2 separate regions of the Homo sapiens genome follow, and region 2 is linked to region 1. Evidence: fine-mapped QTL for protein levels in blood plasma. A gene starts in region 1. The other region holds a variant in brackets. All regions are shown on one strand. Distances are from middle to middle.

Region 1 (2,912 bases):
CCTCGGCCTCCCAAAGTGCTGGGATTGCAAGCGTGAGCCACTGCGCCCGGCCGACTCACTCCTGTTATGAGGGCCTAGTCTAGCACCCACTCTAGAATTTTGAAACCTCATTGATAGCTTTTCCTTGCCCCAAAGCACACATCCAGGACTGCCAAACAGGGCAACCCAAAACTTCTCTCAGAGCTTCCTCCAGCCCAGGGGCAGCTGTCCCCAGCTGGGCGGACCCAAAGATGGACAACAGAGGAGACTGGGAACAAAGAGGTCTAGTCCAGGTCACTCTGCAGGGCCACAGTGGGTGGCCCTTAGGATGTAGTGAGAGTACAGAATTGGGAGCCCTAGAGTGCTGTAAGCAAAAGGGAGAGCAATGTACAAAGTTTCAAAAGTTTCAAACCTTCCAAGTGCAAAGAGATGAGGTGGAGAATGTCATTCCCCAAGGAAAGTAATCGAGTATAAATATTTACCGGGTGCCTATTTTTTTTTTAACCGAAGTGAGAGCAAGACCTTAAGAGTAAGGATATGTGTAGGTGAGTGGGGGCAGTGTTCTAACCCATCCACTAGCTTTAGAACTTGGAGCAGGGGCAGAGGAAGAAAACTCCAAAAGGTGACAAGTTTTGAAATTTGTGCAGGGGTGACGGTTTTTGGTAAGGCGAGCGAGGCTGGGCGCAGAGCAAATTCTGTCTACTTCTACCTCCTCCGCGGTGGGGTTGCTGAAGTGGGAATTCAAACTCAGCTTCCCAATCTTAAATGCAAGGTTTTTGTTTGGTTGGTTGTTTGGTTTTGTTTTTCCTTTTCACGGACTGTTCATTCCGAACACCCCTGGCCTGGGACCTGGAGCCTCATCCCTGATTCGCTTCCCTCGAATTCCTTAATGTCCACTTCTGGCTCTCCCAGTCCCTGTGCAAGGTGGGCACACCGGCCCCTTCCCAGCAATCCGCTCCGTGTCTATACTTTCTGAATCAACCAAGAGCCACAAAACTTTTCCTGCTTCTCTCCTCCCCAGTCTCCCGGTTCTGGCTGCAACTTCGCACTCCGCGCCTCTGGCAACCAGAAGAGACCCTGGCATCTCCAAAGCGCTTTATCTCAGTCCATTGGAACCAGTCGTGCTGACCGATTCACACCTCGGCTAACGCACACTCGCGGGGGTGATGGCCTTCCCTTCCCCTCCCACCCCCGTCAGCTCCCAGGTGAGGCGCTGGCCCCGGGGGGAAGCAGCTGTGGGCGGCAGTGCGTGGGTTGGGCAGGGGTCCCTTCCCTCCGTGAGACTCTGCTCTGCTGTTCAGCCTCCCAGAAAGCCTCCACCCTCCCCGCGGCGAAGCCAAGCGGCCGCGGCGCGCGGGCGGTACTCACGCAGCAAACTCAGCAAGCAAAGCGCGGTCCAGCCCCGCGGCATCCTGGGCCCTGCGCGCGCGCCCCTGCGGACCAGCATCCTTCCCGCGCGGCTCCTAGAGAGACGCACCGAGTGGAAGACACTACTCGGCTTGGCCAGGACGCGCTCTTCCCGCCCCCTCCGCCCGGGAGAGGGGTGGGGGATTCTTGCTTTTTTCCTCTCTTCTCCCCTCCCTTTTTAGTCTTGGCAAGGCAGCGCCTCTCCTTGGCTGCTACTAACTTGAGCTCCCCTGGTTGGTCCCAAAGGCGGAGGGCGTTAGGAGGGAGGCTGGGTTGCCGCCGTCGAGGCCAAAAAAGGTGGAGGTTTGTTCGGGCTCCAGATGCCTCGTTCAGCTTTCTGGAGAGGCCCCATCCCACTTCTTCAAGCTCCACTTCCACTTAACTTTTAACCCCTTTGTGGCAGCCTTGCCGGTGGCCAGGGCAGGGGCAAGTTTCCTCCGATTTTTTCCCCACTTTTCTTTCCTTGTGATTTTCCTTTATTTTTAAGTTGTAAGCCAGTAACAATCTTGCAAAAGGAATCTACTGTAAGGACCTCAGTTTAGAAGTGTGAGCATTTCGTTAATCAGGTAAAACTTAACCACAATGTGGCACATTTAGTGATAGCCTCACCAGATCCTGTGCTGTGTGTGAGTGAAGCGTCAGGAGTGAGCAGGTATACGTGACTATAAGTATTCATTTTGGCTGTCCAAACCATTCTTGGAGACTTTTTCTTTCTTTTCTTTTCTTTTTTTTTTCCTGCAAGACCTTTTTGTGTTATGTTAACTTTTTGCTAACTTGTGTTAACTTTTCCTGTGACCTTCCATATTTCCCCATTTAGTTCCCCATCACCATCATCCTAAAGAAAAAGGACTTCCCTGGATGCCTTCTCACCAGTTATCCCCTCTCCAGCCCTGGGTCTAAGCCACTAGGGATTTCACCTTGCTCTCCCATCAGAAAAAGGACTTTCTGTGACTCCATCCTCCACCACTTGATAGATCCTTGAGCTTCCTGTTCCTCACCAGTTCCTCTGGGTGTTGGTTGTACTGAATAGAAGAAACTCTGAGCCGGGTAGGCAGCCTAGTCTTGGGGACGTAGAGACGGGAGAAAGGAGAAGCCAGCCTGGGCAGATGATGGCACCAGGGGAGGATCAGATAAGGTATAACCTGGGAGAGGCTGCTCTGATATCCAGAGCAGAATCATGAAATTATAAATACTCAGTTCAGGCTCTTCCATGATGTCTGTACCACATAGCCTAAAGGGAAAAAAGAGAAGCCAGACCAGCACTCTGTGGTCCTTTCTGATTTCTCCGCAGACACTCTAGCATTATAAAAGTAGCTTTACCTTTATAGTCCATCTCAAACCTACTATGCGTTGGGGTTGCACAGGAGAAGGATCCAGGTCTAAAAACAAACCCAAAATCTCCTTATTCTGGTCTTGTTGCCTAGCATTCCTTTAAACAGGGAACAAAGTCTTTCATCACACAATAAGAGCAAAGGCCTGATATGCTAATTTGATTGAATACAACGGAATGGTATGAATCTGTTTCA
Region 2 (2,873 bases), 10 kb before region 1:
AACACAGAAAAGGGAGTTTGGGGAGTTAACAGTTACTTCGTGTCCCATCCCTGACCAAACTCATTTCAAGCTGTTGGAACAAGAGCTAGAATCTAGAATGTATTAGAGGTGTCCTGAAACTGAAATAGATGCTGGTCTACCTTAGAGAAGCCAAAGACCCCCAGTTTGGACCTGTACCCACCTTCTTTCCTTTAGAAGAGATCGGAGATCTCTATTGAGTCTTCTGATCCTTATTTTATCACTAAGCTAGACTCAGCATGAGAGAAGGGGTATGGAGGCATTACTGATCAGGATCAGCTCCCAAGACATGGGCCTGAGAAAACTGTCACTGAAGGAAGAATTATCTAGAACTTACTTCAGGGCACCCTAAGCATGATACTCAAGTCATTAATACTAGGGACTTGTATAATTTCCTCTGTGGAGAGGGGAGCGGTCTGAAAACATCCTAAATGCTTTACCCAAGCATCACCAGCATCTCTCCGGGATCTGACACAAATGCTGTTTTTACCTGTGATGTTTGTTGTGGCCTCATTGCCATGTTGAGACACAGGGTGCAGGCTGGTACTTCCAAGGGTACTAGGTGTTGTAGTTTCTTGGTAGGATACATTTGTAGAAACATTTGAAAATGTTCCCTGGGTAGGTAACTCTGGGGTAGCAGTACCGTTGTTGTCAAGACTCATGAACCCAGAAGCTATAGGGAAACGAGGAGGAAGAA[T/C]CAGAACCTAAAGATATCAGCCTGGTGATATCACCTGATGCAATTTCCTGACTTCAGGTAGAATTCGTCTAGAACATTCCCTGCTGCCCCTTGTTGGCAGCAACAAGAACATACTCCTGGACAGTGGATTAATTTCCCACTACCAAATTTGCCCTGAGGACATAGGGAAGGAAAGATTTATATGCATACAAATGTCTCATACAGTATTATTTATAGGAGGGAAACGTGAACAACTAAATGAATTATGATAGGATAAGTGATATATGCACTTAATATACCATAATCATTATATAATCATATAAACAAACATTAGAAAGAAAAAAATTATAAAAACTGTAGCAACGTGGAACTATGAGGTGATGTTCATAGTATGTTTAGTTACATACTAAAATATAAAATTACACCTGCATAAATATTGCAAAGATCTAATGTGTGCAAAAGGTCATGCTTCTTTTTTCTTTTCACTGTATCCTCTTTTTTGGTCACTCTCCATCCAGTATACTAACTCTTGGAATAATCACTAGACTCACTGTCTCTATGCGATCCCCTTAAAAATCTATACTTCTCAGACTTCCCATTCCCATACTCCCCTCATCCTTTTGCTCATGGCCTTCAAACCCATTCGCCTTTCCTTTTCTTCTTTTAGCATGCTCTGACCTAGGAATTCAGCTAATGAACCAGGGAACACAAGGTCTGGTTTCTCATCAATGTAGTGGGAAGGTAGACAAGCTTTGTTCTGGCTCTTCCAATAACTAACCATGTAATTTAATGCATGTATGTATCTCAGCTCTCTTACCTCTTAAGTAAGGGTCTTTTCTGGCTACCTTACATGGATTGCTGGGATAAACAATGAGATAACAAATGCTAAGTTATTATAGTATTATAGTATAATGTTTTGGATCTCATTTTTCTCTGAAGATCTTCATGAGTGTCTTTGCACATCTCTTCTGTATATCCTGGGATACATACTTTTTTTTTTTTTTTTTTAAGACAGGGTCTTGCTCTGTCATCACAGCACCCAGGCTAGAATGCAGTGGTGAGATCATAGCTCACTGTAACCTTAAGCTCCTGGCCTCAAGTGATCCTCCTGTCTTGGCCTCCCAAAGCTCTGGGATTACAGATGTTACTCACCATTCCCAGTCAGTATCCTCATTAGACACAGGAAGGAGAAGCTTCTTGACTGAACCCTATGCCTCAAAGAGCCCACACCCTGTCCTGCTTCCTGTGAGGACCAATCAGGATGTACCCTCTCTTCTAGGTCATACTGTGGGGACCAGAAGTCCTAGCACTTCTTGATCAAATGGCACTTTGCTCACATCCACGATGGGCCGCTTCTCCCAGTCCATCCTGCTAAGGGGAACTGCAGCACAAGGGTGTACACCCCCAAGGCCCAGTGGTGGCCAAATGATGACTGCTTGCAGGGAGAAGAGTTAGTGCTTAGTGCTTAAGCCTGTGGGTGGGGTGTCCCAGGCACACATGCAATTGCCTTGCAATGTGAGCCAGAGTCATGGGTAGAAAGTAGATGAAGGGAAGTGGGCTGGGGCCAGGAGCCATCTCTTCCTGCTAAGCTGCACTGTGGCAGTGAATTCCAAGAATCTGAGCATCCCAAATTGAAACTTGGCCTTCCAGGTGATCACGAAGATATGTTTGTCAAGGTAAGAGGATAGAAGATATTTTATTAGTTAGTTGGCCTGACTTACAACCTTGAAATGTTTAGAAATATAGTATGTAGGCCTCTGTTGTACTCTTGCCTTGGGCCTTGTAAATGTTAAGGGTGAACTTGGTATCCAGAGTTCATAAAGGCAGTTGCATCTTCAAGGAAGAGCCTCTGAGGGTCCCAGGCCACCCTAAAGCTTGTCTCTAAATTTTCCTGATTGGGATCTAGATCTGTACTTTTCAGCGATTTCCAGGTAAACAGCAAGGTAGAATGACATCTCTTGTTTCCCTCAGGATCAAGAGGGAAGTTAGACTTTTGGCTTCACGGCCATCAACCTGGGGCCAAGAACGGTTTCCCTAAAGGTGATGACAAGGGTTTCACTCTCTCATATCTGCTTCCTTCCACAACCTGCTGCAAGCAGATTGCTATTAATGGTGACTGCAGCAATCGTGTCTTACTGTTATGTGTCAGGTAAGCAGTGGGGAGAAGGAATATCACTAT

Which allele goes with the higher level. Alleles are on the strand shown, and positions count from the first base shown. The strength of an association depends on the size of the effect and on how common the allele is.
In carriers of allele T in region 2, the plasma level of the protein whose gene starts at base 1,471 in region 1 tends to be higher than with C alone (weak association).

Evidence for each region. A credible set is the group of variants that fine-mapping cannot tell apart. PIP is the chance, under the fine-mapping model, that this variant and not a neighbour inherited with it causes the effect. Protein levels are from antibody-based Olink assays in UK Biobank. Linkage for the fine-mapping came from a reference panel and not from the study's own genotypes, which makes the PIPs less certain.
Region 2: its variant is the best candidate, but not a certain one, in a credible set for the plasma level of the CD34 protein (UK Biobank, PIP 0.82).

What each region holds. Positions count from the first base shown.
Region 1 is chr1:207,909,655-207,912,566 of GRCh38, forward strand. It overlaps CD34 (CD34 molecule), which reads right to left and starts at 1,471. Exons shown (of 8, transcript NM_001025109.2): 1 at 1,348-1,471. The coding sequence starts at 1,426. LOC107985253 (a long non-coding RNA gene) reads left to right here and starts at 714. Exons shown (of 4, transcript XR_001738424.2): 1 at 714-903; 2 at 1,001-1,184.
Region 2 is chr1:207,899,313-207,902,185 of GRCh38, forward strand. CD34 (CD34 molecule) reads right to left here. Exons shown (of 8, transcript NM_001025109.2): 2 at 509-691. Among named protein-coding and RNA genes, the nearest start is that of CD34, 10 kb to the right of the region's middle. The variant T/C (reference allele first, on the strand shown) is at 716.